Linked DNA regions of Homo sapiens: regions 2, 3 and 4 are each linked to region 1. Evidence: fine-mapped expression QTL. A gene starts in region 1. Each other region holds a variant in brackets. All regions are shown on one strand. Distances are from middle to middle.

Region 1 (8,201 bases):
CTCCATCTGAAAAACAAAAACAAAACAAAAGAAAGATAGCATAACCAACAGAAAAAGCCTGGCACTTGGAGTCAGTAGACAAGAGATATAGTTGAGCTCTGACAGTTACTTTTCCCATGACCATAGACAAGTCACTCATTTTCTCTCGTCCTCTATTTCCTCTTTGAAAACAATGGTGATGATACCCTCCCTCTTTCATGGGATTATGGCAAGGTACAAGAAAGTGCCTTATGCCGGCATATATAAATGCAGGGGTTCGACTTCTCAATACCAAAGATGAGCTCAAAGATCAAAGCACAGCGACTCTGCACACCACAGACTCTGAAGCTATAATAATCACTTGAAACAGCAAAAAAATCCAAAGACTTCAAATCCCATAGAGCAGTGGAAACATGACACAGGAGCTGTTAACTCCAGGGACTATAAGTGAGCAATCAATACCAAGGGAAAGGAGGATCCAGGAAAGTTAACTTTTTGGAAGCAGATGTCTTTGAAACACACAATTGGGCAAAAACAAAGAAACAAAATAGGCATTGTATCCCAGAATGTGTTTCCTTATTGTAAAAGGACCCCAAAACGAATCAAGCATTTTATTTTCTTTCAAATCAGCTCCAGAGTATGACTTGTGGACTCTGTCGTGATTCTGAGTCCACTTCACGTGTACCCATATAACACCCCCTGTACAAAGCCAATTTCTACAGAAGTGAGCAATTCCTAGCAAGGATTGGAGGCAATTCCCAGTGGTTTTGGTCTAGCAAACCACATCACTGACTACTACTGAGTTGGGCTTAGTTTTAGAGGCAGCAGGCAGGTGGAATTAAAGATTAAAAATTCTTCTTTCATGCGGGCTGGGCGCAGTGGCTCACGCCTGTAATCCCAGCACTTTGGGAGGCCGAGGCGGGTGGATCACCAGGTCAGGAGATCGAGAGCATCCTGGCTAACACAGTGAAACCCCGTCTCTACTAAAAATACAAAAAAATTAGCCGGGCATGGTGGCGGGCGCCTGTAGTCCCAGCTACTCAGGAGGCTGAGGCAGGAGAATGGTGTGAATCCTGGAGGCGGAGCTTGCAGTGAGCCGAGATCTCACCACTGCACTCCAGCCTGGGCGACAGAGCGAGACTGTCTCAAAAAAAAAAAAAAAAAAAATTCCTCTTTCATGCTATAAATAGCTTGATCTTCAAAATGTGTAATCTTGCCAGAACGACCTTGCAGAAACACTGATAACTTCCTCAGAAACATCCACACATGGCATACTTGCTTGATTTTCCTCCTGATTAATAAAAGGTTCCCTGTTGATTACATACTACCTGGTGCTCTTTCCCATTATCTCCAACCCTAATTTTGACACTTAACCTAAAGTGGAGGAATGTGGACAGCCAAATGACATTTTTAAAAGGATTCAGGAGGCAGGTTTCTTAAGGGCTCTGCAAGTCTGATGACCCAGAAAATCCACAGGTTTATGGCCCACCCGTGAGACAGTCAGAGCTTTAGATATGCAACTGGTGTGTGGAGAAGTAGGACTCAGGGTAAATGGCAGGTGCAGGCAGTGAAGAAAAGCATACCTCTCCTCCCTCACCACTGCCAGCTAGTCCCCTGCCCCGTGACCCACCCCTTACACCCACAGCTCAAAAAAACAGCGCAGAGTGGCAGAGTGCATGGTTTCTATTCATCAACAACCTACTCGGACAACCAACCTTCCAGGCTGAGCAAAGGGGATGGGTCTGATAATAGCTTTATCAACACTAAGCCAGCTATTTGGGGTGGGGCATGGGTGGAGTGGCTGTCCTCCAAAGGAAAGGAGTGACAGGAAAACTGGAGGGAAAGGCCAGAAGGGGCATGGGAGCCGTGTGCTGGAGGTTAATAACAAAGTTCCCGGTTGCTGTTCTTACCAACATCAAGACCGTCACTGAACTATTTTCAAAGAGAAAAACATGCCACCAGCCAGCGATCCTATAGAGAGAGCTTGGGCTTGGACTGTCACAGGGGGAAACCTAGCCCTTCCTGTCATGGAGAGCTCGAAAAGGGCATAACACACATTGTGTGTGTAATCATATTGTGCTGGAAATACTCTCATTTGCATGTTGTGAGTTTTTACATTTAAATGTGTGGGATTCCACTTTTATTTTTTAATGTATACAGGTTCTACAGTCAGATCCAGGTGTCCCTCCTGTCTGTGTTACATATGGTCAAGTAACTAAGGGTGTCCCTCCTGTCTGTGTTACGTATGGTCAAGAACCTCAGTTTCCTATCTATAGAACTGGAATAATAATATGTAACACATAGAGTTATTGTGAGGAGACTATGAAAATAAATACACTTGTTTAGCGCATCATTTGGCAGAGTAAGTGCACAATAAAAGTAAGGGATTGTTATTAGCGTTGAAATTATGATGGAAGCCTTGAGCTCTCTCTTCTGGCTCTGCACCGTAACTCCGATAAATTTGCTACAGTTTCCTCATCTTTGATACGAAAGAGTTAAATCGCACATTCTATCATTCCTATCCAGGTCAAAAAGTCTTTGAGTCAATGGATGTACTATCTGCAAGTAAAATCATTATTTTTTATTATTTTGCTATTAATATTTTGAAAAGGCATGGGTTTTTCAAAGGAGCCTGTTGGCTCTCAAAAATACAGCAGTTGGATAATTCAACTGCTCCCATTTAGACATTCCATTTTATTATGGGAGGCTCGATGATTCCGGAGACACAATTTCACCAGAGGGTTCTCTTCCACTATCAACCTGTGGAAAATCTGAAACTATACCAGGAACAAACTCCCTAAAGAATGACTCAGGAGGAACCCCCTCCCCCAGCAGTCAGACAGGGAAGTCACAGACCACATGGCCGCGGGCTGACCCAAGGACCTCACACAAATGCCATACCGAGGAACAGAGAAGTTGGGACTATTTTTCCTCATTGGCCACTCTACATTTTGTGGATTCTTCTACATTTGAAGGAAAAGAAGGTGGAGAACTTCTCAATGTCAGACTAGCCATTTGTTTAGACAGGGCATCCGAAACTGCTTCCATCAGAGAACATTGGTTGGTGCGGTACTCAAGACCCACTGTGCTGAGGGAAACTCGATCGCAGAAGTGCCGTGCCCTGGGTCATTTTTAATCCATTCTCCACAAACAACAAAGGATGGTAAGGGTGGGGAGAGAACAGTGTTCCCTCATGGCAGGGGGCAGAGGGCGAAAGAAAACCGTATAGCTTGAGCCTGTATGAGAATCCATTTGTCACACGAGGAAACAAGCGCACTCCAGGTTGTCCTAGGCTTATCACAAGCAAAACAACTATTTGGTGAGACTTCAAATAAAAACAGCCCCTCTCTGCCCACCCTCCTCAAGATCCACGCGATCTCCAGAAACAGGAACCTGTTTGGTTATCTCCCTGCAGCCTCTGATTCAAAGACCTGTCACTTTCAGAGCTTTACGTCATCAGTTTAGAGCTCTGCCCTCTCTCTTTTCCCCTTTTGCCTTTCCTCTGAAGCATTCTGTCTGGTGACTACCAAGGAAGGACAAAAGTCACCGAACAACAGCTCAGTTCCAGCATGGTGCCTGCTTTGCTGCTCGCCCAAGCGCAAGCACCATTACTGCTGAATGAACCTGAGAAGGAGCCGGTTCTCTCCGTAATTTGGATGCCAGGCCTCCCAGAGTTAATCATCAGCTGCAGGCAGCACTTTCCCAGTCAGGTCATAAACAAGGAAAAAACAGCCTGAGTATCACGAAAACACTAAAATAAGGAAGACCAGCGGCAACCGAACATTTTAAAGTAATGAAGGTGAAGGAAGACCAGGGGCAACTGAACATTTTAAAGTAATGAAGGTGAATTAGCTTGTTGGGGGGAAAAAAAGTCGCTATAAAATACAGCTTTCAATTAGTTGGAAACCATGCAAGAAATCTAAATATGATTTCTAATGTGAATCTAAATATTATTTTGTCAGTCTTCTATATTGCAGACAGTTCTACACAGTTAAATGAGATATTCTCAAAAATTGAATAGGAAAAATCAAATCAGCCATACAATAAATTCACAAGTTACTTTAAACAACTACGTTTTCAGGTTTCAGTGGTAGAAACAGATTAAAATCAAATCTAGTCATCAACTCACTTCAATGAAGTCTCTACTTCATAACCTGAACTTGACTTTGAACCTAAACACCATGGACTAGAAAAATCTTGAACACTGGGAAACAAACTTTCTGTTTCCTAGACAGGAATGAAGCCATATGCCCCATTCATCCTCAAAGTTACAAGACACGTTGCCGAAAATAACAGGTTCTAAAAAAGGGCTGTGAAAACACCAATGGCTGTTAACAGGTACAAATAAAATATCTCCTTCTATCGTGCCAGAGGGAAACCAAAATCAAAATCAAAAGTTGTTGGTGGCTTGCAACACACACACACACACACACACACACACACACACACACGGAGAGGGAATGAAAGAGAGAGAGAGAGAGGAAAGTTCTCCAGTTACTTACTAGGGTGGTTTTGTCGTGGTATTTTTCACATCAGCACTCTGCCTGTCCAGCTGCCAAGTGCCGGAGCACGCCGAGAGCAGCTGTTTCCTTCAAGCTGGGGCTCTGAGTCTTAACCAGTCACATGTACCTCCTGATAAATACCGCCCGCCACCGTGCCAGGAGGTCAGAAACTGAAGATCATTCTTCTCCTCACTCGCAAACCACCTCATAACCCCTGAGTTGGCTCAGCCATCTCATGAGCATGCAGAGCGGGATATTCCACAATTTGTTTTCCTTTAGTGACAAAAGCCAAACAGCTGATAAGTCACACTGAAGGGCAGGTCACTGCAAGTGGAAAGTTAAATGTGTTTGCGTGTGTGTGTGCGCAGAGGGGGAGACTGGCAGGCTCCATGCTCTCTCATCTCACTCAAGTTTCACTGGGGCTCTCGAACGGCAAGAGAGAGGATCACCAACTCGCACAGCAGGTGGAAGTTGCTCTGTGTTAACCCCGGAGTACAACTGTTTGGTTTCGTTTTCTCAGAATCTCAGGCTCCAGTTTGTTAGACGAGCCACAAGCCTGACTAGGTGGCTGGTGCTGGGGAAGGCAGACCCTCACTCACCATCTAAGAATGCTTAGGTTGGACTTCAAAGGCCGGGGCTGCTAAGCCAAGGGACGCTGAGGGGCAAATATGGGAGGGGTTAATGAAGACTATCAAAGGCAGCTTTATCTGAAGAGCTCTTGGAAGTGATTTCAGGTAGCTTTAGACCAAACTTCCGCATTGTTATCTGTTGAATTGCATCGAGCAGCTGAGATTATCAGCCGGCGAGTGTGAATGCAAACAGAAATTATCACCAAGTTGACAACGCGCTTTACAGACGCACTACTGCCCCCTTTGGTGTGCTGGGAACTTGGAGCAAACTGCCGTTTTCTGTGCTGCTCGCAAACGTGGCAAACCATCCCTGATGTTTTGTTGAATTCATATGTCTCACCTGAGCTGATGTTCCCACCCTTCCCTTTTCATCCTCCCTTCCAAGGAAAGCCCTTGAAGTATCTGACTTTACGTAGTGTCTGACCTTGGATGTCTGACTTCTTGGTATAGTAAGGGTGACACTTCCCCGAATCAGTGTCTGAGCCTGCCCTTCAGGTAGAGATATGACATAGAGGCAGCCTATTTGGCAAAGTGAACATCCAGAAAAGATGGTTGAAGTCCCCCAGGGGATTTCTGAACCATAATGTGCCTGTTAAACTATTAACCCTGATTTTTAACACATAATATCTTACTCAGTGTAAGAGCCTGTGTGAGTAATCTTTTATATTTAGGCTTTGTCTCATAATTATTTACAGTGTTAATCAAACCAGAAATTTCCCTCCATATAGAGGATACAGTGTTTTCTAGAATAAGAGAAAAAGACAAAAAACCCTCAGTCTCACCATACTATCAGGGCAGTAATTTGTTGTCAACTTGTGAGAGTCCGAAGAGCAAATGGGAGAATTTTGTAAGCACCAAAACAAATCCCTTCCTCAGCATTTCAAGTTAGTAATAGAAATAAACTTCAGATATAAAAATGCAATGCATAAAATACACATTTCCCTCACAGGCATTTTTGTTTATGTGTTGATGTGACAATCTTCAATTAGAAACAGAAAAAGAGGCCTACTGAGGATTTGAAACATTATTTTGATTTACTTACCCCCTTGTATTTACAGTAATAGAAACTTTTGTGATCTGATGGCATCCATCCATCACTTTGTTTACCATTGACTGGGTTAATTATTCTGATGATCCATTGCATGCCACATAAAGAAACAGGGACTTCTAGAAACTCTTCAATGCCCAACAGCGACAACAGCCTCAGGAAAGTTAAGTTGTATTAGTCCATTCTTGCATTGCTATAAATACTTGAGACTGGGTAATTTATAAAGAAAAGAGGTTTAATTGGTTCATGGTTCTGCAGGCTATGGAGGAAGCATGATACTGGCATCTGTTCGGCTTCTGGGGAGGCCTCGTGAAACTTACAATCATGGTGGAAGGCAAAGTGGGAGCAGATGAGTCACATGGCCAGAGCAGCAGCAAGACAGACAGGGGGCACTTCTAAATGACCAGCGCTTGCCAGAACTCACTATCAGCTGGGTGTTGTGGCTCATGCCTATAATCCCAGCACTTTGGGAGGCTGAGGAGGGTGAATCACCTGAGGTCAGGAGTTTGAGACCAGCCTGGCCAACATGGCAAAACCCTGTCTCTACTAAAAATACAAAAATTAGCCGGGCGTGGTGGTGTGCTTGAACCTGGGAGGCAGAGGTTGCAGTGAGCCAAGATCAAGACCGCACCACTGCACTGCACTCCAGCCTGGGCAACAGAGTGAGACTCTGTCTTAAAATAAACAAATAAATAAAAGAACTCACTCACTATCATGAGAACAGCACTAACAGGATGGTACCAAACCATTAATGAGAAATCTGCCCCTAAGATCCAATCACTTCCCACCAGGCTCCACCTCCAACACTGGAAATTACATCTCAACATGAGATTTGGGTGGGCACAACATCCAAACTACATCATAAGTGTAAAGCAGGAGTCCCCAGCCCCCATGCCATGGACAGGTACCTGTCCATGGTCTGTTAGAGGCCAGGCTGCACAGCAGGAGGTGAGCAGCAGTCAAGGGAGCATGACCATCTGAGCTCTGCCTCCTGTCAGATCAGCTGTGGCATTAGATTCCCATAGGAGCATGAACACTATTGTGAACTGTGCACGCGAGGGATCTACACTGCATGCTCCTTATGAGAGTCTAATGCCTGATGATCTGAGGTGGAACAGTTTCATCCTGAAATCATCTCCATCCCCTCATTCCCGGTCCATGGAAAAATTGTCTTCCATGAAACTGGTCCCTGGTGCCAAATACATTAGGGACCACTGGTGTAGAGGTTCTTTTCTAGTTCTATAGCCAGGAGAGGAAGGGATGGATCCTCAATCCTCCCTATGAAGCAAACTGTTAACACAGAGGCCAAGACCCAGGACCCTTTCAGTCAGAGTCCAGGAGTGTGACTAAAGGTTCTACAATAACACAGCCTTGCAAAGAAATGGGGGAGATCCCATCTTTCTGCCCACACTCCCTACCAGTTCCAAGCATTGTCTTCGACTCAAGAAGAGGTGCCCTCTTCCTGTCAAGAGGCCACCTCCTACCTCGGCTTTGTGTCTCACCCTGTGTCTCCCACCTGCTTAGGACTCTCGACAACAACCACGCCTTCTCTTGCTCTCAGCGTGCGCTCATTAGCTAAACATGCTCACGTTCTCACATTGTCTTTATATCCTAACAACAGTCTTTCTGATTTTTTGCTTTTTTTTTTGAGACGGAGTCTCACTGTGTTGCCCAGGCTGGAGTGTGGTGGCGCGATCTCGGCTCACTGCAAGCTCCGTCTCCCAGGTTCAAGCCATTCTCCTGCCTCAGCCTCCTGAGTAGCTGGGACTATAGGCACCCGCCACCACGCCCAGCTAATTTTTTGTATTTTTAGTAGAGACATGTATTTTTAGTAGTAACATGGGGTTTCACCATGTTAGCCAGGATGGTCTCCATCTCCTGACCTCATGATCTGCCCACCTTGGCCTCCCAAAGTGCTGGGATTACAGGCGTGAGCCACTGCCCCCAGCCAGACTTGCTCTTTTAATTACTGCCCTAACTCCTGCATTCCCTCCACAACTAAACTCCTGAAAAAATACTTGTCTTCACCATCTCACATCCCAT
Region 2 (8,201 bases), 28 kb after region 1:
TCCCTGTGGGGGAAGGAGAGTGAACTGAACACCCTACTTTGCTATGGACCACAGCATCGGGCCCACTTCAGTGAAATCCAGTGCCAGAGCAGCCCTCATGATCCCAGGCTCTAGGCTAGCACCTGTGGATAAGGGCATCCAGGGCTACCCTAATGCTGGGCCAGCCCCTATGGCCCCAGGCTGCAAGCAGGCCTCTATAGCATCAGGCTGCAGCTCCATTCAAGCACCACACCAATACAACAGCACTAGGCTCTACACCCAGAGGCATGTCTGCCACAGCAGCTCAACCTCTAGGCCAACCCCTGCAGACACAGGCTTTAGGCAAGTCCCAGTAACCAGGCTAGCCCTTGTGTGGACTCAGGCTCCAGGCCCATCCTAGAACAAAGTGGGCCTCTATGAACTCAGGCTCAAGGTCCATCTCATGGACAGGATGGCCCCCATGAACCTAGACTTCAGGCCAGCCCCTGCAAACACAGGGTCCAGATTCACTCCCATGAACCCAGAATCGAGGCCCACCCCAGGAGATGCAAGCTCCAGGCCTTCCTGCCTGCTGACTCAGGCACCAAGGCAACTTGCCTGAGAATACAGGAGCAAGTCTGCCCTCAGATTCCACCAAACAACCCACCCAGAATCTCTAGATAGACTGGTGAGAGCTTTCCAAAGCCAATATGTAAAAGGTAGAACAGGTGCTTACTTCTTCATATGCATAGACATCAATATATAGCCACAAAGATAGTGAATAATAAGGGAAACACCACCACCAAACAACAAAATTAAGTAACTGACCCTAAATAAATGGAGATCTATGAACTGCCTGTCAGAGAATTCAAAATAATCATCTTAACAGAGCTCAGTGAGCTATAAGAGAATACAGATAACTAAATCAAATCATGAAAACAATATGAAAGCAAAATAGGGGATTCGATGAGGGTATAGAAACCATAAAAAAGAACAAGGCAGAAATTCTGGATCTAAAGAACATAGTGATGGAACTGAAAATTCCATAGAGAGCTTCAACAGTAGCCTCAATCAAGCAGAAAAAAGAATCAGTGAGCTCAAAGACAGATCATTTGAAATATTCAGCCAGAGAAACAACAACAACAACAAAGAAGAAGTAAGAATGAAAAAAGCCTATAGGATTTATGAAACAATATCAAGCAATCCAATATATACATTAGGGGATTCACAAAAGTAGCAAAGAAAGAAAAAAGAGCAGAATGCTTAGGTAAAGAAATAATGATAAGAAACTTCCCAAATCTGGAGAGGCAAATGAGCATCCAGATCTATGAAGCCCAAATAGCCCCAAGCAGATTAAATACAGAGATCTTCACCAAGACACATTACAATCAAATTCTCAAAAGACAAAGAAAAAACTTTGAAAGCAGCAGTAAATGAAATCGAACCCTTACGTTACATACAAAAATGAACTCAAAATAGATTAAAACTTAAACTCAAAATAGATTAAAAACTTAAACTTAACACCTGAAAACTATAAAACTACTACAAGAAAAGATAGGGGAATATCTTCTTGTCATTGGTCTCGGCAATGATTTCTTAGATATGACTCCAAAAGCACAGGCAACAAAAGTAAACACAGAGAGTTGAGATTGCATCAGACAAAAATGCTTCTGCACAGCAAATAATCAACAGACTGTAGAGACAGCCTGTGGGATGGTAGAAAATATTTGAAAACTATGTATTATATCTGATAAGGGACCAATATCCAAAATATGTAAGGAACTCAAAGCAACTCAATAGCAATAAAACAAATAATTCAAATTTTAAAATGGATAAAGGACCTGAAGAGGTATTTCTCAAAAGAAGAAATACAAATGGCCAATAGGTATATGAAAAAATGCTCAGCTGGGCACGGTGGCTCACACCTGTAATCCCAGCACTTTGGGAGGCTGAGGCGGGCAGATCACGAGGTCAGGAGTTGGAGACCATCCTGGTCAGGAGATCGAGACCATCCTGGCTAATACGGTGAAGCCCTGTCTCTACTAAAAATACAAAAACAAAATTAGCCAGGCGTGGTGGCAGGCACCTGTAGTCCCAGCTACTCAGGAGGCTGAGGCAGGAGAATGCTGTGAACCTGGGAGGTGGAGTTTGCAGTGAGCCGAGATCATGCCACTACACTCCAGCCTGGGCGAATGAGCAAGACTCTGTCTCAAAAAAAAAAAAAAAAAAAAAAAAAAAAAAAAAGAAAGAAAGAAAGAGAAAAAGAAAGAAAAGAAAAAAGAAAAAAACATTTAAAATAGAACTATCATATACTTCAGCAATCCCACTTCTGAGTATTTATCCAAAGAAAATGAAATCAGCATGTCAAAGAGATACCTACACTCCATGTTCATTGTGGCATTATTTATAATAGCCAAGATGTGGAATCAGCCTAAGCATCCATTGACAGTTGAATGGATAAAGAAAATGCGGTATATACAATGGAGTGCTATTTAGCCTTAAAGAATAAGAAAATTCTGTAATTTGCAACAACATGGATAAACCTGGAGACTATTATGCTAAGTGAAATAAGCCAGACACAGAAAGACAAGTTCTGCAGGATCTCATTTTTTGTGAAATCTAAAAAAGTTGAACTCAGTAACAGAGAGTAGAATGAGGATTGCAAGGGGCTGGGAAGAGGTGAGAATGAGGAGGTTTTGATCAAAGGGTACAAAATTTCAGTTTGACAAGATGTATAAGTTCTGTTGTACAGCATAATGACTACAGTTAATATTGTATTGTATACTTGAAAATTGCTAAGAGGATATATCTTAAATGTTCTCACCACAAAAATAATGATTGGTATATGAGGTGATAAGTATGTTAAATAGGTGATTTGATCTTTTTGTAATGTATACATATATCAAAACATCATGTTTTACATCATAAATATATACAATTTTAGTTTGTCAATATCTTAATAAAGCTTGGGGGCTGGAAATAACGATAAGAAAAGTAAATCTCTAGTCCCTATTGAGTCTTCCGAAGACTCTAGTCCCAAGTGACAACTGACTGCAACCTCACAAATGAAACTCCTTAATCTGACCTTCTCCTGAATTTCTGGCCCAAAGAAATCATGTGAGGTAATAAATGCTTACAGTTGTTTAAAGGCACTTAGTTTTGGAATGATTTGTTACACAGAAATAAGTAATAAAATACCTTTCTTATCTTTACTAAAATGCATAATGGTCAAATATACAAAAGTTTGCATTTTGTATTTGCTATATATCATAAATATTTTCACTGTAATAAATATTCCTTTTTTTTTTGGAGATGGAGTCTCGTACTATCACCAGGCTGGAGTGCAGTGGTGTAATCTCGGCTCACTGCAACCTCTGCCTCTCAGGTTCAAGCAATTCTCCTGCCTCAGCCTCCCTAGGAGTGGGACTACAGGCATGCACTACCATGCCCAGCTAATTTTTGTATTTTTAGTAGAGATGAGGTTTCACCATGTTGGCCACAATGGTCTCAATCTCCTGACCTCATGGTCTGCCCCCCTCGGCCTCCCAAAGTGCTGGGATTACAGGCGTGAGCCACCGCGCCCGGCCTAAATATTATTAAATATTCCAATGTCATGAAATATTCTGTTGTATGTCATCAAACATGGTTTTTTCTAGATTCCTGCACAATATTCTATGCTATCTACATAGTATAACGTATTATGTCTTAAAAGTAGATGTCTGAAAAAGTAATGTCTCAATTGCAATGACGAAAGGTTGGTTGAGAAAAAACATATATGCATATATATGCAAGGTAACTCTGCATACTTTGTTAATACTTTCATTCATTCACCAAATTTAAGATTAGGAAGTTGGTATGTGTCATGCACCTGATCTTATGTCTGGTAATCTGGGAGAGGTAGAAATGATGAAGACATTGTTTAAGGTCTCAATCACACTTGCACAGCACTTGGCTTTTGTCTAAACCTACCTAAAGCCCCAAACAGAGAGTAATCATGTTATACCTGGTATGCATAATTTGAAAAACATGTCTAATCTCTACCACATGTAAATTTGTGTCCTAATGAATCTCATTACAACAAATGATACAAAATATTACTTAAACATTTACTATATGTAAGGTTATATCTGGTTCCCAGAGGGATTTCTTTAAAATAGGTTTATTGAAACATAATTCACATACCATACAATTCACTGCGTTTTGCTATATTATATAGTTAATTTTTAAATTGTAATAAATATATATAACATAAATTTGCTATTTTGACCATTTTTACGTGTACTATTCAGTGGTATTAATTACATTCACAATGTTGTGCAATCATCACCACTATTTGCAAAACTTTTTTATCACACCAAACAGAAACTTTACAACTATTAAGAAATAACTCTCTATTCTCCCTTTCCCCCCACCCCCAGCCACCTCTAATCTACTTTCTG[T/A]TTCTATGAATCTGCATATTGTAGATATTTCACATAAGTGGAATCATATAATATTTGTTCTTTTGTGTCTGGATTATTTCACTTAGCATGATGTTTTCAAGGTACATTCATATTTTAGCATATATGAGAACTTCATTCCTTTTTATGGCTGAATAATTTCCCATTGCATGTCTATGCCACATTTTGTTTATCTCTTCATCTGTTGATAGACATGTGGGTTGTGTCTGGTTGTGTCTGCCTTTCAGCTATTATAAATAATGCTGCTATGAACATTAGTGTACCACAGAGAGTTTTTTTTAAAGCACAAAATAAGGCCTAGACATGAAGGAATTTATAATTAGGTTGTTGAGAGAAGAAACTCTTGGAAAATTAACCACAGAGGCAAATAGTAGTTGAATAAATTAAAGAAACACCACCAGACATGGGATTAAATATATAAGAAAGTATTTATATAGTATTACAGTATATAAATGTTATAGCATTTCTGAAGAGGGCAAATTCACTCAAGACTGGTGACAGCTTCATCATCAAATGAGGAAGAACAAAAATGTTGTTCACTTCATAATTTACAAAGTTTCTGACATCACAGTTTCAGTGGGGTTGAAAACATGTGATCAGATTTTATGTGTTTAAAATCTGAAAGAGACTTGAGAAAATAAAGGTGGTATGTGATGGAATACTCACTGAGAATCTTGGCAGTGAAATCAGAGAATCCAAATGGGTCATCAGAGGGGTGCCGCAGGTTCAGGTAGATTGGGTGTAGTTTCCATGGCAAAGAAGAGATATGGATGTTTTAAAAGAAAATATCCTAGAAACAAAAGAAATTGAGAGAAGACATTGAAGAAGGATGCATTCATTGACCAGAAGGTGAGGAGACAGTTTCAGATAGAAAACACAGACATGGGCCGGGTGCGGTGGCTCACGCCTGTAATCCCAGGACTTTGAGAGGCCAAGGCGGTCGAATCACTTGATATCAGGAGTTCAAGGCCAATATGGTGAAACCTCGTCTCTACTAACACAAAAAATTAGCCAGGCATGGTGGTGCACGCCTGTAATCACAGGTACTCAGGAGGCTGAGGCAGGAGAATGACTTGAATTCAGGAGGCGAAGGTTGCAGTGAGCCAAGATCGGACCACTGCACTCCAGCCTGGGTGACCAAGTGAAACTCTGTCTCAAAAAAAAAAAAATGTGCACACTCCAAGGTTGGGGCACCTCTTTGAGTAGCATGTGGCACAATTACCCTATGTTTTGTCTTTGTCAGAGGGCCTCCATTACCAGAGAAACAGCCCTAGTTCCCAGCAGAAGAAATAAGAGAGTGTTCCAGAACAGTCTGTCCCCCTGGCCCAGCCTCCTGTTCCTTGGGCTACATACATAATCTCAACTCATTTGTAGGTCCCTGATTCTCACTGTTTTGTGAAATCAACCAGTGGGACCACTCAACCCAGATTTCTTGACCTTCCCTGAAGGCCCATTCATGCCTGACTTGGTCACTGCTTCCCCCTCTTTTTTTTTTTTTTTTTTTGAGACGGAGTCTCGCTCTGTCACCCAGGCTGGAGTGTAGGTTCACGCCATTCTCCTGCCTCAGCCTCCCGAGTAGCTGTGACTACAGGCACCCGCCACCAACACCTGGCTAATTTTTTGTATTTTTAGCAGAGACGGGGTTTCACCGCGTTAGCCAGGATGGTTTCCATCTCCTGACCTCGTAATGCACCCGCCTCGGCCTCCCAAAGTGCTGGGATTACAGGAGTGAGCCACCGCACCCGGCCCAGTCCTTCCTCATTTTCTATTGATATATTTTTTTAATGGTAGTCTCTGCAGGATCCAACAGTTAATGGCACTCACCAAGAGATTTTTCTTTAACTGACTCGGAAATTTGTATGTGCAATTTGAATGTGAAATTGCACACATTCCCTCCCTTCCTTTTCCCCACCCTAGAGGCTGTTGAGGATCATTTCTTGAGGCTCAGTCTCTAGTCTTCCTCACCCTTTCTCCAAGGAGAACTGGACAATCATGCACAATTCTCATGTGCCTGCATATTTAATTCTAACCATTCTCTTCACTTTCCTCTCTTCTACTTCTTAGCCAAGTGTTACTTCACAGAAATCTCACCCTATTTGGGAACCAAAAAAAAAAAAATCCAAAAAATTTCCAAAAAAAATTGCCCTACTTGGGCCGGGTGTGGGTGGCTCACGCCTGTAATCCCAGCACTTTGGGAGGCCGAGGCGGGTGGATCATGAGGTCAGGAGATCGAGACCATCCTGGCTAACATGGTGAAACCCCATCTCCACTAAAAATACAAAAAAATTAGCCCGGCGTGGTGGCGGGTGCCTGTAGTCCCAGCTACTAGGGAGGTTGAGGCAGGAGAAACGTGAACCCAAGGGGCGGAGCTTGCAGTGAGCCAAAGATTGCACCACTGCACTCCAGCCTGGGCGACAGAGCGAGACTCCGTCTCAAAAACAAAACAAACAAACAAACGAACAAAATTACCCTATTTGGGAACCAACAAAAAAGAATGGCTACACATTAACAGCAGAACTAGTCGTACTTTGTCCTTCAGGAAAAGGCAAGCACAAAGTTTAACAGTAAAATTAGACATAAAAGCCTAAAAAAGGTCTCTCTACCTAAGGGTCACTTAGATAAGGCAGTCCCCTTTAAAAAAAAGAATTCCATTTACTTCCTCATTTTTCGTTGGTAAATTTGCTTTTCCTCCAATATTAAGAAACAAGATAAATATGATTTATCTCTTACGCTTGTCCCTGACTCTAGTATAGCACCTGGCACTTCCTGGATTCTTTACTAGTGTTTGTTGCTTTGAATTCAAGGTGGTTTTGTTGATCCAGTATATACTTTTTCTGTTTGGTTAATTAACATATTATTAATATATTAATGTGATATAATTATTAGCATATTAATATATGATATAATGTATTAATGTAGAAATAGTACATCAATAGTTAGATTTCATTGAATAATTTCAAATGCATACATGTTTAGAATAAATAATATATTATAAATACATTGTAATAATTTCGTTGTAGATACGTGGCATTTTAGGTGCAGTATGCAGTCACTATTTATAACTTTGTTTCTATGGGGAAAATGTAAAGTGAATTCAGAGGGCCAAGAAAATTATTAAAAACAAACTTTTGGACCATTACCAATTTGTAAATCATGCAATGAATGGTCATTATTTATATATGTCTTTAACTTTTATTTTGATTTCAGAATTTTCTGACTGGTTAAACTCTAGTTTCATAACCAAACCCTCATGGAATAAGACAAGAACCAAAAATGTGATCATTCCAGTTGGCTGCAACTCATTGCCAGGATTTCAGAGACCTATGTTTCCAGGTCTCTGCCATTGGTGGGGCCATAAGAACCTACAGTGTCTTCTGATTTTATCCACTTCCACCAGTTCTATTTTTGTATCTCCGTATTTAGCACACAGAAGCTATCTTTATCACACCAGCTGACTGGCATGAGAGTCCCCAAGGCATAGTAGTTATAGAAGATTATTATAGCATACTTCCTATCCTTCAAATAAGACAATGCAAAATGCAGAAAAGACATCAGCAAGTGGTCACAATGTTGGAAGTATGTGCGTGTGTGCATGTGCACTTGTGTGTGTTTCCATTGCTAAAGATTTATTTCTTTGTACTAAGTTGTAGGCACTATTAGGAGCATAATGTCTATAATGGTTTTTGGAACTCGATTTTAGGCTGTGTAATTGAATCTATTCCTATACCTAAAATTCACTTCAAAACATTATGATAAAGTCTTTTACAAGCATATCATCCAGATTTC
Region 3 (8,201 bases), 79 kb before region 1:
ATAGACCTCGGGTTAAGAGCTGTTGACACCTAATCATGATCTTTCTCTTATTCTCGTTTATATTCCCAGCTTGAACTGTGCTAGGCCAGTAAAAGAAGTAGGGGGATAGGACTGATACAGTTGTCAAGATGATCAGTGGGGGAAATGTTAAAAATAAAGTGGGCATTGCAAATCTATAGAGACAGAAAATAAATTAGTTGGCTGGGGTGAGTTGGGGGAGAATGACTGCTCGTGGGTGTAGGATTTCTTTTTGGAATAATGAAAATGTTCTAAAATTAGATTGTAGTGATGGTTGCACAACTTTGTGAGTATACTAAAAGCATACTGAAAGTATACTAAATTGCATACTTTTAAATGGGTCAGTTTCATGGCATATGAATTACATCTCAAAGCTGTTTTTAAAAGTGGATGTTATAGAAACAAAAAAAGTGTTTCAGCAGAAACTTACAATAAACCTTGTATGACCAGAGATAATGGGTGGCCTCCTTATGCACTGCCTTCAGTGAGGAAGGAACTAGGGGAATTTCTGGCTAAAGGTCACTGGAGTTTTTCTCATCATGGGAAATGTATGGAGACGTGTGTTTAGGTCTCCTGAAGAGTGGAATGTGGAGGACCACCCATAAGACTAAAGAGCACTGGCTTGATCCAGTAGGATCTCTGCCTAACCCAATATTCTGTTTATGAGAACAATTCGACAGGGTGGCAATGGCTGTCCTCCATGACATTGCTTTAAATGTTAGGAATATCATGCCAATTTTCTCAAATCCTTTCTCTTAATACACTATAGACTGTTAACTAATAAATTTATCTAACTCCATCTTGAATCAATTTCTGTGTCAGCATACTCTAACAAATTCCATCTGCATCCTACTTTGCTTTGCATGATTTTGCTCATGCGGAGGCAGAGCCTGGTTTAGAGATCCTCAAGGGCCTCGTATCTCTGATTCTCACCACCCCCTTTTCCATGATGCTGTCAAAAGCTTCTTTTGAGCAGAATGAAAAGTTTCCAATTCTCCTTTATCTAAAAGTCTTTTGCTTCTACTGCCTTTCTTGAGTCTGGGCCCTGGTTCTAGCTTGGAAAACCAAGCTGATCTGTATCGTGTACTGGTATTTTGGATATATAGTCATGGGTTTCTGGGGCATCATTTCAGTACGCACACATGACAGCCTTCAATAGGTTTCAGAACTTGATCTCGTTCAATTTTTTTAAATCATGATACTGAGATCCATAAAGAAGAAACATATGTCCAGGGTCACATAGCTAGGCAGTGGCAAGACTAAAAGTGATACATGTCTTCATTCCCAACCATTCTGCTTTCAGAACTACCAGGCTGCCCCCCAGACCCTCTGTAACGCTCATCTCAGCACTTTCAGCCTCCTTCTTCTGGTTTTCTTTGTGGGTTGACCTAGCACTTACCTCACCATCCTGTCTGGTCTCTTCTCCTTCATCCTGGTCAAGTTCAAACTCCGTGCCCCGGTCTACAACATCCACACCAGCATGCACCCTGGGCTTCTCATTTTCCCATTTGGCAAAGCCTTTGTCCTTTGCTGCTTTGTCATGGAACTTGGATTTCATTTTAGGGAAGGTGTGGGACCCCGAGTCCCCCCAGCCAGCCTCTGACCAGACAGGTTCAGTCTGGGTGGCCTGGCTGGTGGTGGCCCTCTGTAGCCTCACAGAGATCTTGCGAGAAGAGCCTGTAACCAGTGTGATGGCTCTGCTGTCTAAATCCCTGTGTCCAGCAGTGACTCCAGGGAACTCAAACACCTCATCCTGCGCTGGAAGTGAAAAAGGGTGGTGATTATTTGACATCTGACTGCTTGACAGCAAAGCATCAAGGTTAGTGCAAACAGCACGAGTCTGGCATGCAACATTCTAGAGGAACCGACAAGGGACAGAACTCAATTAGCCGCAGGCAAGTTACATATTCCTGAGACTAGAAAGCAGAGAGAAGCAAGGATGATTCAAGGGTTTAGCTACTGCTGCTCACCCTAAAGAAGGCCTTAGCGTTTAGAGTGACTGACCGGGTTTAGACCCAGAACCTAAATGAGGTCCAAGTGTGAGGAGGCAAGCAGAAAGAGACCATGGCAGCAAAGAAAGCAGAGGGCATTACCTGGGGGCAGCGAGGGGCTTCCAGGCAGTGACCCATGACCACTGCTCAAGGAGGGCGCCCGGGCAAATCTCCTGCAGGCCAGAACCAGGAGGTCTTTGCACTGTTTGTGACAATTGGCTCCACAGTCTGAAAAATTCCAAGGGTGTCGCAGATGATTAGTGTGTCTGATGTTGATTCAGTTTCCAGGGTGGCACTTGATTTGTCAGCCCTCCCCTCCCCCACCCCAGTTTCTGTGTTGAATTTCAGAGTTGAGCTCAGGCCCATGGGGTGTGTCTAGGATCTGGAAAGAGGCCATTGGTCTGCACTTGCCTTCCTGAGGTTCCGAAAATTCTCTTAGATTTGCTCAGCTTGGTTCTGTATGCAATTGAGGACCTAATGAGCAATTGTGCCTAGGGAGTAAATAGAGTCCAGCCTGAGAGGTCAGTTGCCTTTGCCCAAAACTAAATGCAAATCAAATGGGGTTGAGAGTCTTTCCCAGGCTTAGACGGAATCCCCACAAAGAGAGCCTATGCCAGCATTAGGGCAAGAAGCCTCAGCTTCTAGTCTCTCCCAGGCCAACTGCCTCTGATCATTTACTGTGAGGTGTTCCTCCACTCAGCACTTGTCTGGATTTTTTTTTTTTTTTTCGAGATGGAGTCTCGCTCTATTGCCCAGGCTGGAGTGCAGTGGCGGGATCTCGGCTCACTGCAAGCTCCGCCTCCCGGGTTCACACCATTCTCCTGCCTCAGCCTCCCGAGTAGCTGGGACTACAGGTGCCCGCCACCACACCTGGCTAATTTTTTGTATTTTTTAGTAGAGACGGGGTTTCACCATGTTAGCCAGGATGGTCTCGATCTCCTGACCTCGTGATCCACCCACCTCAGCCTCCCAAAGTGCTGGGATTACAGGCGTGAGCCACCGTGCCCGGCCTTGTCTGGATTTTTTTACTCTTCTTCATTTTCCAAAACCTTTCAGGGCCAGTGATTATATCTTCTGCTTCCAACAGAACACAAGATGGGCATATGCTCAGTAAATATGTTCTATATTTGCTTATGGCTTTGAAACAGCGTGCAGCAGAGTCTGTGAATTGCCCATTAGGATGTTTTAGATAAGACAGTAGAATGTTAATTACTACTTGGGGTAGAAAAATGTGGCCACTTCAGATGGTGGTTCACAATTATTTCCTATGATGAGGGTCCTGCACTTCACTGAGAATCATTGAATAGAGATGATCATTTCTCTCCTACCATCAAGGAGGACCTTTCTAACTATTTCCAGTACCCATTTTCCCCTAAGTGACCTTGTTTCAAATAGTCTTAATGATGTATTCAATCTATTTCAATTCATTTTTTTTTTCACTTTATGTGCCATTAAGAAAATACAAGAGATAATCCAAAGGTGTAATAGATTTTCATCTTTATAAAATTGCGTGTGTGTGTGTGTGTGTGTGTGTGTGTGTGTGTGTGTATTTTAGGGTATGAGGATAGAAACCAGAATAAAACTAATGACTCACTGCTGGGCAATAAGATCTTGCAGTATCTTTGCTGCTTGAAAGTAAAAATCTAAGTTAGACCAAGGCAAGTGATAGAGAAGCACTAATGGGAAGGTCCCTCTGAGCACTAAACAGTGGCTTCCATTGAGATTTGGGAAGCTTTTTGTTCATGCAAAATGAGGACGAAATACTGGAAAACGACTGGAGAAAAAAGGCATCCCTGGGGAACAACATTCATCTGAAGGTATTCTGTGATTAAGATGTTTCTTTTTGTAGTTTTATTATATTTTTTCAAAAGCTTTATAAGATTATTAGAAGAGGCCGGGCGCGGTGGCTCACGCCTGTAATCCCAGCACTTTGGGAGGCCGAGGCGGGTGGATCATGAGGTCAGGAGATCGAGACCATCCTGGCTAACAAGGTGAAACCCCGTCTCTACTAAAAATACAAAAAATTAGCCGGGCGCGGTGGCGGGCGCCTGTAGTCCCAGCTACTCGGGAGGCTGAGGCAGGAGAATGGCGTGAACCCGGGAAGCGGAGCTTGCAGTGAGCCGAGATTGCGCCACTGCAGTCCGCAGTCCGGCCTGGGCGACAGAGCGAGACTCCGTCTCAAAAAAAAAAAAAAAAAAAAAAAAAAAGATTATTAGAAGAACCATATAAACTGTCCACATAAAGTGTCCAGCAACTTCTTAAACAACAGTAATGTATACTTGATCATATATGTACAAGTAGCAACACATTCCTAAATGCTTAGTATACATGCATATTGCATTTGTCAAATATATTTGATTCAATTGTTTATAAACTTAATTAAATGGGAAAGATAGAGGAAAGCATTCATTGAAAAGGACAAAATTACGTTTTAAGTTTTCTCCTCGTTTTTTGTCACCATCTATGTGATTTAGTAGAGAAAGGAATAGCTAAGTGTGAGTGGGAAGAAGTGCCTGTGCATTAGAGAAATAGTGTGTAGGTGTTTTTCTTTGAAGGAAGAAGTTCTTATATTCAGTATTTTAGCTAGGCTTGTCCCACTCAGAATTCCCACCTTAACTGGATGCTGCTGATTCCAAAGAACTAGATTTATGTGTGTTGATAAGAGTGGTTTGTAACAAGCTATAAAATTCCAATTTTAGCTCTCCAAAACTCCAGAAACTCCTCCTCAGAGGCAATCATTCTCAGTTGCCGTTGACCCAAAAGACTGAAATTCCGAATAATGGCAAGAGCTTTTGTAGTTTAACCAGACAAATTTGATTCTTACCCAAAATGTCACATTTTAAAAATTGTAACAAAATAACATTGATTTACCTTTGCATTTGTATCCTTGCTTGATTATGCCCCAGAGCTGTAACAAAAGACAAAGGAATGTCAGGGAATCTGAGGATAGATCTGGAAGGAAAACAAGGCCACTGAAAAGGAAGTCCTGGGAAGCTTCAGGACTGGCCAGGCACAAACAGGATGTAGCCACTTTTAACACCCTTCCTGCCAGATAGAAGAACCCTCTCCCGGCCCCTTCCAGCTGTGGTGATAACATGAGTTTC[C/G]TTTCCCTTTTCTTTCTCAGAGCCAACTGGGAGCCGGGATGGGAAACTACTAAAGTTTGATGCACCAGACTTTGGCCTGATGCGCTCTCAGCAAAATGTACAGAGGAGATGGCCACTTGGTCTTTGGGAGCCCCTGGCTCTCTCTTTTTAATGACACTAGCTGCTCTTAGCGCCCACTACAGGAAATGAAGCAATGGAAGAAGCGCACCTCATGTGAAAGCATTTGGATTTTGCTAGGCTATTTTCTGAGTAGTATTTGTCCCGTGGAAAAATACAGAAGAGGAAATGATCTTAGTTATTCATGTCTTCATTCTCCACATTTGCTCTATGTTTGGCCTGTGCCAGGGTTGTAGGAGATGTCGAAAAAGCTCAGATTCTGCCAAGCAAGGAGTCTGTGACATCCTCGTGGTTAACAAGTAGGAAGTGACAAATCCCTGAGGGGAGATGTGAGGGCCTGCAGTTCCACGAGGGAGCGTTTGCCCAGGGGGTTCAGGGACATCCTGGTGGTGGTGTCTTCGCTCTCCAGACAGACTCCTTCTAAACACCATAAAGAAGAGGGCCTGGCCAGGCGCGGTGGCTCACACCTGTAATCCCAGCACTTTTGGAGGCCGAGAAGAGCAGATCACGAGGTCAGGAGATCGAGACCATCCTGGCTAATATGGTGAAACCCCGTCTCTACTAAAAATACAAAAAAATTAGCTGGTCATGATGGTGGGCGCCTGTGGTCCCAGCTACTTGGGAGGCTGAGGCAGGAGAATGGCATGAACTCAGGAGGCGGAGCTTGCAGTGAGCTGAGACCGCACCACTGCACTCCAGCCTGGGCAACAGAGCAAGAGTCCATCTCAAAAAAAAAGAAGAGGGCCTTGCCATGCCCTTCTGTGCCTCCCCACACCTCTTGCATGGGGTGACAGATTCACCAGAGGCATACAGTATGGGTAATTAAATGGGCTTAGCTCAAGTTGGAGAAGAACTATTGCTAACCTCTTTGTGTTTGGGTTAGGTGGCTATTATCTACTTAATAAAATAATGTTGAAAAAGCAGGGCCCACTGGGACTGATGGGGGTGCCGTTCACAATGTTCACAATGTATTATAAGTGAACAATGCCCCCACATGTGGGCAGCATGGCCCGCTCTTCCAGAAGAGTAAGTCACAGCCAATGTGAAGTGACTCAAGAGTATACAAAGACTGCTCCTTACTTCTTTTTGACAAGGAACTTCCACAAGTAGAAAACTCAAGGATTCCTTTGAGCCTTAACAGCTATTTGGTCCTTCAGAATACATATTAAAATGCAAATGTCAGCCGGGCGCGGTGGCTCACGCCTGTAATCCCAGCACTTTCGGAGGCCGAGGCGGGCGGATCATGAGCTCAAGAGATCAAGACCATCCTGGCCAACATGGTGAAACCCCGTCACTACTAAAAATACAAAAATTAGCTGGGCATGGTGGTGTGTGCCTATAGTCCCAGCTATTCAGGAGACTGAGGCAGGAGAATCACTTGAACCCAGGAGGTAGAGGTTGCAGTGAGCCAAGATCGCGCCACTGCAGGCGACAGAGAGAGATTCTATCTCAAAGAAAAAATAATAATAATAAATAAATAAAATGCAAATGTCTCCTAGGACAGAGCAGTATTTTGTCTTAGGGACAGGAAGGATTATCTGACAACTAAGTAGAAGCAAGGATGGCTGGAAGAGAGAGGGGCATGATCCAGAAAAGGGCAGTGGTGGCCAGGATCATCACAGCTTGATCTTTATGATAATCTAGTTTGCTTCTCTTTTGTAAAAGGTGAATGTGATGATCCAGGAAGTTAGATAATTTGCAATCTCCCACAACCTGGAAATTCTTTCTCTGGAGCCCTTGGTAATGATAATAGCAATAATAATGATGATAGTTAACATTTCTTGAACTCTTGCTATGTGAAAGGCACAGTTAGGCTCTTTATACATATTAGCTTATTTAATTGCTCATGATGTCCTTATGGTGTAGGTAATAATATTTTTCTCATTTTTACAGATGAGGAGACTGACCTACAGAGAGGTAAAGTCCCTTGGCAAGGTCTCATAGCTAGTGAGGGAAAGAAGAATGTGTCACTTGAGGGAAAGACAGGAAGCCATTGCCCCTGCATACTGTTGTGTGAGCAAAGGCACTGAGGTGGGACAAGAAAGGATAAGATTTAAGAAGAGACATCCTAATATCCAGATATGTTACATTATTAGCATTGCTGCAGGAACTGCTGAAAAAGATACAGTCAAGCAAGGGTGCTGGGGGTGGGGGTGGGGAGGTAGGTTTGCTAATGCTTACTTAATAGCCAGGAACAAACAGTAGCTAGGAAGAGGCACTGGGTCAGTGTGCCTGCCAAGAACAGTAGAGGATGAACTCATGTGGATGGGTATGCAGGAGTATTTCCCACAGTCCTTTGATTTGAGACCACCGGCTGCTGTCATATTTGGAGTAATTGTGGTGTAAGGCACACTGGACTGAGAGTCAGGAGACCTGGGTGTGACTCATGGTTTTGCTGCTAATGATCTGTGTGACCTTGGGGGAAGTCACTTAACTTCTCCAGACCTCAGTTTCTTCATCTACAAAATAAGGGAATTACTAACACTCTTTCAGTTCTGGAATTCTAATTCTAAAGTAAATCTTCTGCAGAGCAAGTCTGTTTGTCTTCCTTAAACTTAAAATGGAATTTATTTTAAAAGCAGATGGTTCCGGCACTGGAACCATTCTCCCACAATTCCTTTCAATGACACATCTATAGAGCTATAGTTATAAATTCCTTTGAAAACCAATGGGCTTTTTGACATGAGTGTCAGTAAAGATCAAATCAAATCGTACCAATAAAATTAAATATATTTTAAAAACAAAAACAGCTGTAAAAATTTTAAATGAGTTAATTTCAATTAAACTCTCAAAGTATCAAGGAATACATAAAAAATGTGTACTCCGAGCCATGTGACGTGCAACGTGTCTAATAGTATTTTATCATGCAACAACATGGTGGGTAAGTATTAACTCCCTTTTACAGATAGAAATAGACCCAAAGATGGTGAATAACTTGGTCAAGGACATAGAGTTAGCAAGGGCAAAACTT
Region 4 (8,201 bases), 35 kb before region 1:
GTCTTGAACTCCTGACCTCATGATCCGCCCACCTCAGCCTCCCAAAGTGCTGGGATTACAGGCGTGAGCCACTGCGCCTGGCCGACCAGTGATCTTTTACCTCCTACTTCGGCTAGTATTTCCTTGCAAGTAAAGGTGGGTGGGTCTTACCCTTCCTCTGGTCTACAGTTGACAGTTTTAGTAAAATTCAGGACAATCAGTTAAATTTGAATTTAAGAGAAACAATGATAAATTTCTGTATTGTAAGTATGTCCCAGGCATTATTTAGGTCATACTAACACTAAAAATGATTGTCAGAAATTCAAATGTAACTGGTCATCCTGTATTTTATCTGGCAACCCTGCACTGGTTTAACTCTGGTTTCTATAGTAATCAATTTAATAAATAACTACTCCCATGTGGGTTGACTTTCTTTGTGCAACGGATAACCCAAAATGCTGAGGTGGATATGAAAACAACAACACAAGGAGCATACAGCTGAAAAGTGTATAATCTAGTAGCAGATATGACGTGTATGAATGTAGAATGTAGTCAATTGTGCTACTCACATTCGTCTGAGTCAAAAGACTGAGTCAAAAGACCAAGAAACAATTACAGAGGCATATGCCATGTGCTATAAGGAATTACAATGGGATATGGGATGGGGGAAGAGGCAAGCAGCATTCCTGACCAAGAAGACTAGGAATGGTACTATGAACATCTGAGAGGGCCCTGAAGCAGAATTTCAGTGAAGGGAATATGACCAATGGATGGTGGTAGAAAGGTGCAGAGAATGTTCCAGAAACATTAAGTAGACAGTTTGACTGGGGTATGAGCTGTGGGCAGTAAAGGGAAAGAAATATGGAGGGCAGTGAAACTGGAGAGACAGACCCGGGTCCATCCGAAAGGCCTTAAATACCAAGGTACAGAGACTGAACTCTGTTCTACAAGCAACTTGCCTCTGAATAGAGGAAAGTGAGAGCATCGAGAGATCCAAAAGAGATGAAAGGAGAAAAGGCTCGTACCAAACATCTCAATGCAAGTGCACAGCAGTTCATCTAATGTTGCTGCTTTCCCAAGGCCACTTGATCCCATGGTTATTTAGCCGTTGTCAAAAAACTAGAGACATTTTCAGCATCAGATAGACCATCTCCATAATCATGCAAGTCAGCGATGTTAGTGCCTAGTGGTGACCTGTCCTTAGTTGTACTTCAAGAAAACTCTAAAAAAAAAGAAAAAAGAGAGAAAGTTATTAGACTAGAGTTCAGACCCCACTAGAGCATCACTTTCCTACCTGAAAAGATAATGACTTCCATAGACTGTATCTTTGTACAAGAAAAGTATCATAGTGACTGAGATTACATCAACCTTTTATGATGCCAAAATACCTGCTAAGCTGTTCTCGGGGATGGATGCTGCTTGGAGACCATGGAAATGTTCCCTGTTATATACCATCCCACTTCACTGCTGAAATTTTTTAATGCAATGTTTTATACTTTCCTTATATCCTTTTTTTTGATTGTTTTTGTTCTTGTTTTTGAGACAGAGTCTCACTTTGTCACCCAGGCTGGAGTACAGGAGTGCAGTAGTGCGATCTCGGCTCACAGCAGCCTCGACCTCCCGGGTTCAAGCAATTCTCCCACTTCTGACCCCCAAGTAGCTGGGACTACAGACACACACCACCACTCCTGGCTATTTTTTGGGTTTTTTTTTTTTTTTTTTTTTTGTAGAGATGGGGTTTTACCATGTTGCCCAGGCTGGTCTCAAACTCCTGAGTTCAAGCAATCTACCTACCTCAGCCTTTCAAAGTGCTAGGACTACAGGTGTGAGCCACTGTGCCCGGCCACCTTTCCTCATGTTCTTAAGTGATAAGATATTCAAGAATATTATAAATGTTACTTGGTTTAATATTAATAAAAGAATATGTAAGGAAAAAATTTTTAGAAGCAAATATATTTATAAACATCCTCAATGATTACATAAATATTCAACAACTGTAACAGATTCTACTTGCCTGAGAGTAAGATTATTCTCTGCAGTGGTAAAAATACTACTGTTAATTTATTGAACACCCACATTATGTACTATGCACCATTCCGAATGCTTTGCATATATTATTGAACTTGACCTTCACAACAATGCTGTAAGGTAGTAATTATTATTCCCAGTTTACAGATGAGGTGATGGGATTCACAGTGATTTAGCAACTTACCCAAAACCATGCAATTATTAAGGCCTAGAGTCAGGACTCCACTATAAAATAAAGCTTCTGTGTTCCCTTTCTTCTTATTACTTCTACAAGCATGGATATCACAAACCATCATAGTTTTGCCTGCTAATCTAGTGTAAAGGGTATCACTCCTCCACATCATCTCAGAAAGAAGATGTAAGACAGATTATCTGTTACAGAGACAGAAGGAAAATGTGAGGATGAGAGCTATCCCACTTGCCAGCACTGTCATGGGGAAAACGTGATTGGCAATAGCCTCTTATAGTTGCTTATACTCAAAAGCATCGCTGCTGGATAGACATTATCACTTTATTTTACAGAGCAGGTCCTTGATGCCAGGTCCCCATAGGACTTGGAGCAGGAGGGAGGCTGTCATGTTGTAAGACATTTATCCACTTTAGACATTTTAGTAGGTAAATGCAGCCATTGAGGATTCATCTCGTGAGCTGTTTAAAGTCAATGTCTATTTTACTCTTGAACTTTATTTATTCAACTGGCAATCATTGAGCACCTGACCTATGCCAGGAACTTGGTTAGGCATTGAGGCTGCCAAGATGAACAAATCATTGTCCCATTCTTACCTTCAACAGGCTCATAGTCAACTTCAGAAAACAAACATGTGAATGAATAGGAAAAAATACCTAATGTCCATATGTATGGTTGTATTAGTTCAGTGAGACCACTGGAGTGACATTGGAATGAGTCTGTTCACCAGGCACATAACTCTGGGGAAAAAATGTTTGCCCTCTATTAATTCTGTGAAAGAACCAGATTCTTGTGCTGAAGGTACCACTCTTAGAACATAAAATAAAGGGTTATTTCAAGTGTTCAATAAAAACAGCAGAAACGCTGGATCAAACGCTTTCCCAATTCTGCTGCTGAAATGATTTGTGAAAGCAGATTATTAAAGTCATCTGGAACTAACTTTTTTATATCTTTTAACAAAGTTACCTTATCTGTAAGGCCTTTCCTGACCTATTTAAAACAACGCACCTCTCAGCTCTCACCCACCTCTCACTTGGCATGTCCTACTGCCTTTCCTGGATTTATTTTTCTTCATTACACTTAACACCATCTGACAAACTATATATTTTACTTGTTTATTTGTTTTTAAATCTCTATAGTGTCATAAACATAAGCTCCAAGATTGTAGGGATTTTTGTGTTTGTTCTCTGGTATACACCTTAACACCTAAGGTTTTGCTTCTCACATAAAAGATACTCAAAAATTATTCACTAAATTAATAAACGAGTGGATTAATGGGTGAGGAAATGAATATCATGAAACTTGTCAGAGGTTTGTCATTGAATATGAGTATATTTATGTGAGTGTGTATAGATACCATACATTTTTAAGAGACTTTTTGAAGTTTGTTTACTAAATCAGCTTTAAGTAAACATCACTGGGACAAAAATTTCTGCCAGTTTTCTAAACTTAATAGAATCTGCCTATATTCATCATTAGAACTTGCCTTTTCCAAGACATTCTGGGGCAGAACTTCTCTGATTCCTCTAATGTAAACTCTATCAGTACCCTTAAAAGTCAAGATTGAACAATTAACAAGTTTGATTACCTTCATGTGTATACAGACATTTTTTTTTAGCCTGTTACTCACGGAAGAGTAGACATATTACTTAGAACAAATAGGCCTAGACTAAACTGGTTTCTCAATTCAAAACCAAAATTACTCAGCTGAGCTGTCTGGGGAAGGTGTTCACATCCCCATAAGGGGTTAGAGATAACCTGGAACCAAAGACTCATCACCACGTTTAGGGTTATATTTCTGATCTGCAAAGAAACTGGCACACGACGGGCCAGGTGGGC[C/T]GGGCTATCAGGTTACAATCTGTTTCTGCAATCAGTAGATGTGTCTGAGTCTCTGCTCCACCTTCTGTCACCTGCACATTTACCTGAGATCTCATTTCCTATGTGTGGACATTATTGTGTCTACAACTACCTTTTTCAGAATAAGGCTTCTTTATCACAAAAGCAATATACACTTATTATTTAAAACAGGACATTAAGGAAAAAGTTATCCCTAATCTCATCATACAAAGATAACTCCTATTAACATCATAGCACGTTTCTTTTAGTTTCTCTAGGCATATTTAATTTTTATTAGAATTCTTACATAATTTATGACAATTTAAAGAAATACTTACCTGTTGTTTCCATACAGATACAGTTCCAAATCTGAAAGAATTTTAAGGGCAGCTAGCATCATTGGGAAATGCATGGAAGAAGCAGTCTGTAGAACTGGTTTATTCAACCTGAATGATAAGTATTTTGGAGAACCTGACAAAAGAACAGAAAGAAACCCCCATATAGAATTAGATCATGATAACCCCAAAGAATCCACATTGTGTTAAAGCATTTTCAAAAACTTTGAGTTATAGGTGGTATTTGAGATTTTGTCTAAACTTCACCCACAACATCAATTAACAAGGGCAAATATTCAAAATAGTTATTTGGTAAGACAATTTTTTTTTAAATCAAGTAAGCTTTTTGCAGCCTATTAAAAACCCACATATGCAACAAAACCAAGTTCTATACACATAGTATAAACTACTGTTTCATGCAAATATATCAGTGGATTACTCATTAAGAATTTCCAAACATTGACTTTGAAATGTTAGTAAATCCTTAAAACAGTCTGTGGTCATGATCACTAAACTCTGACCCTAAATCACTACTGATTGTCTCAACATGAATGTCAATGTTATTTTAGAGCAGGTTGTTTAGTCTCCCAATGGGGCCTTAAGAACTTGCTGTTTGTTTAGGACTTGCTGTGGTGTTGATAGGTACTCTCTGGCGGCCATGAAAATTATTGTTCTCCAGCATATACATTTTCTCCCAAGTCTGAAAGGGACACAATAAGCCAAATTTCTCCCAGGGTTTGAATTATTTCTAAAAGAAAAGTGTTATTTTTAAAGGGCAATAGAGTTTTGTTGGGTGTGATTTCAAAGGCTACAATATGTTCTTGTAGCAAAAGGACGTTCATTAACATGACTTGTGAAGCCTCTATTGTCAAAAAACATCCTTCTGAGGTTGCCTAGGACACTAAGAACAGTGCTCCCAATTTTAGAAATAATAAAAGGTAGCCAATTCCATGTAACTGTTCATTAACAGATATAAATGAGCATACCAGGCTCTTGACTCAGAACCTCTCCATTAAAAAAAATCGGGTTTCAACATTAGGTAACTGAATGGGGAAAGTCTGACTTATCTCTGAGTAAAATTCCATAATGCTGCGTACTTTACTAGACTGTTTAAGGAGTTAGTGAGGTCACATAAAGTGAATCCATCACGGAGCCTGCAGAACGCTGAGTGCTCAGGGAAAGGGTCTCCTTTTACCTGCACTACTTCTTCCCCTCCCATATTAAAAGTCTTTTAAGTTGAGGCCTGAAGTAGAGGACCAATTTGTAGAAGCGAAAGGGAGAGAGGTGTTCATTTAGAGAAGAGAAAAGATATTCGAAGAAAAAATACGATGACACTGGAGCACCTATTAGGGGGCCAAGCAGCCTCACCAGCAAGGGACTCCAATTCTCAAAGGTTCTCAAGCCAAAGTTAGGTCATGACTGTCAGAGATGTTGTAGACTAAATTCCCAGACGGTATCTAGGAAGTATGCCAAAATGACAGGGAAGCTTTCTCTTGGCTCTAGAATTGTAGGATTTATAAGGTGAAATATTGTAACTAGTAAGTATTCAACAAATCGTTTTGAAATGATGTTGGCCATATTAGAACTTTCAACAATTGTCTTGTCTATCACATTGTCTCTATTCCAAGATAAAAGAATTTCTTGAAGATCCTTCCCTGCCAATGGCAGTTATTATCTTTATGCATAAATGACTACATAAATATCTTTACATTCATATGACCTCCATATGGAGACAAAGAGGTTTCTCTAAATGACTAATCCTTCATGAATACAAGTGTTAATTGTTACAAACCTTGAAGTCTTAAAGATTAATGCCAAAGATGTCAGCATTCATTGTTCTGGAAATATGCAAACTTAATTTCTCTTTATCACCACAGACATGAGATTTTTTTTTAAAGTGCTGTGATTATATTACCTGATACTCCATAGGAGAATTAAGATTGAGGTTAGTAAATGAAATAATAAAAACTCTGAAAGACAATTAATTTATTTGATAAATACTTACTGAGGATCTACTAGACACCAGACACCGAACAGAATACTAGAGTGGCTGGTAGAAGGGGTTGGTGTCGGGGAAGTGAAGGATAAATGGATAAGCAAGACAGATACAATCCTTGCCTCTATAGTCTAGCAAAGAATTAAAGGAACAATGACAATAAAATATCTTATGGAGCACAGAGCAGGTAGGGAGGGGCACTAATTTAGTCTAGAAGCCTGAGGAGTTTTAGCTTAGTAATGAAGATGAAGTCTTTTCAATTATGAGAAATCGAAAAGACATTTACAATGACTAAAGTGTTATGGCAAGAGATGAGACTAAAACGTCAGTGGAAGTAGCTCATGACAGTATTGTAAGCTTTAGTAAGGAGTATATCCTTTATCCAAAGGGCAACGGGAAGCCATTGTTTGAAAGGAGAATGGCATGATCATATCTGGATTTTTTTTTTTTGAGATGGTCTTGCTCTGTTGCCCAGGCTGGAGTGCAGTGGCATGATCTCAGCTCACTGCAACCTCCGCCTCCCAGGCTCAAGTGATTCTCCCACCTCAGCCTCCCAAGTAGCTGTGATTACAAGCATGTGCCACCACACCTGGCTAATTTTTGTATTTTTAGTAGAAACGGACATTTCCCCATGTCGGCCAGGCTGGTCTCGAACTCCTGACGTCAAGTGATCCACCCACCTCAGCCTCCCCAAGTGCTGGGATTACACGCATGAGCCACCACACCCTGCCTGATTTTCTTATTATTTCATTTCCAATGGTATCTTAACGTCCTCTTCACCATATCAAGCAAACCTAGGTGAAATGGGAGCTAGGATCTGTGCCCTTGTGAGGACACCACCTAACAAATGCCAGCCTTGCTTTAGTTCTGAGGCTCAGACTTATGGAAAGTGTAACTAGACCATAACAATAGAAACTCATAATTGCTTCTTGAATGCAGGGGAGATTTGCCACAAACATTGTTCCAGAAGTTATCTGAAGTAATTTTAGAAACATGACATGGGTAGATGATACAATAGCCCAAAAAGCAAGGAACACTAAACTTCCTCTCAAAAACAACAACAATAAAAAACAAACAAATACCTCCAGGAGAAGAAAAACATCAGCCTTCTACTCTTGACAGAAATAATCCTGATAATTCTGGTTCCTTTCTTCTCTTTTCACAATGGCTTTTGTACATTTTCTCCTCTCGATAAACGTCAGAATGGTATCCATCATACCTTCTGGCAGATGACCGTGTCTCCTTTTTAGAGTAAATGGAAGTTGCCAGACAGAAACTTCCTTGATTTCCTTCCATAAAAATGAGAAATTTACCCACATGGATGCCCTTTTTGGGGGGTCTCTCCTGCTATTGCATTGAAAGAAGTGGCCCTCTTCTTTATCCAAGGTCAATCCCTCCACCTGTGCATGGATCCCTTACTCTTGTCCTCCCAGGGACCACGTTACGTGAATTAACTTCTCACTCTTCTGCCTCTTCCTCCAATATTTTTTTTCCTGCTAATTCTTAGCACTTAAAGATGCCCAGGTCTTAACTCAGAAGTCCGTAATGGATATCTAGAAGTTAACTCAAAATTTCCCCTTGATATGATCAAGGGAAATCATTTAAAACAAAATTTCTCCTTGGAATCTCAGGCATCTCTAAATCAATACTGCCAAAGTGAACTCATCATTTTCCTCCCACAAACTTGTTTCTCCTCCCCTCCACTCTCAATTTCTCAATCGCAGGGGAATGGCACCATCAGCCAACCAAATATCTAGCTAGAAATCTGGGAATTATCCTTGATTCTGATCATTCCCCATAGACAATGGATCAGTAAATCTTTCTGAATCTATTTTCAAAA

The links.
Region 2: its variant is fine-mapped to the expression of RASGRP3 in monocytes after interferon gamma (Fairfax 2014, PIP 0.95).
Region 3: its variant is fine-mapped to the expression of RASGRP3 in monocytes (TOPMed, PIP above 0.99).
Region 4: its variant is fine-mapped to the expression of RASGRP3 in whole blood (TOPMed, PIP above 0.99).

The regions. Positions count from the first base shown.
Region 1 is chr2:33,472,988-33,481,188 of GRCh38, reverse strand. It overlaps RASGRP3 (RAS guanyl releasing protein 3), which reads right to left and starts at 4,540. Exons shown (of 18, transcript NM_001139488.2): 1 at 4,482-4,540. RefSeq lists enhancers at 1,255-1,424, 4,885-5,204.
Region 2 is chr2:33,444,824-33,453,024 of GRCh38, reverse strand. It overlaps a transcript of RASGRP3 not described here. Among named protein-coding and RNA genes, the nearest start is that of RASGRP3, 28 kb to the left of the region's middle. The variant T/A (reference allele first, on the strand shown) is at 4,398.
Region 3 is chr2:33,552,247-33,560,447 of GRCh38, reverse strand. RASGRP3 (RAS guanyl releasing protein 3) reads right to left here. Exons shown (of 18, transcript NM_001139488.2): 15 at 4,881-4,917; 16 at 2,112-2,237; 17 at 1,418-1,776. RASGRP3-AS1 (RASGRP3 antisense RNA 1) reads left to right here. Exons shown (of 4, transcript NR_146505.1): 4 at 5,134-5,403. Among named protein-coding and RNA genes, the nearest start is that of RASGRP3-AS1, 13 kb to the left of the region's middle. The variant C/G (reference allele first, on the strand shown) is at 5,114.
Region 4 is chr2:33,508,010-33,516,210 of GRCh38, reverse strand. It overlaps RASGRP3 (RAS guanyl releasing protein 3), which reads right to left. Exons shown (of 18, transcript NM_001139488.2): 2 at 4,369-4,501; 3 at 1,005-1,201. The coding sequence starts at 1,074. Among named protein-coding and RNA genes, the nearest start is that of RASGRP3, 35 kb to the right of the region's middle. The variant C/T (reference allele first, on the strand shown) is at 4,034.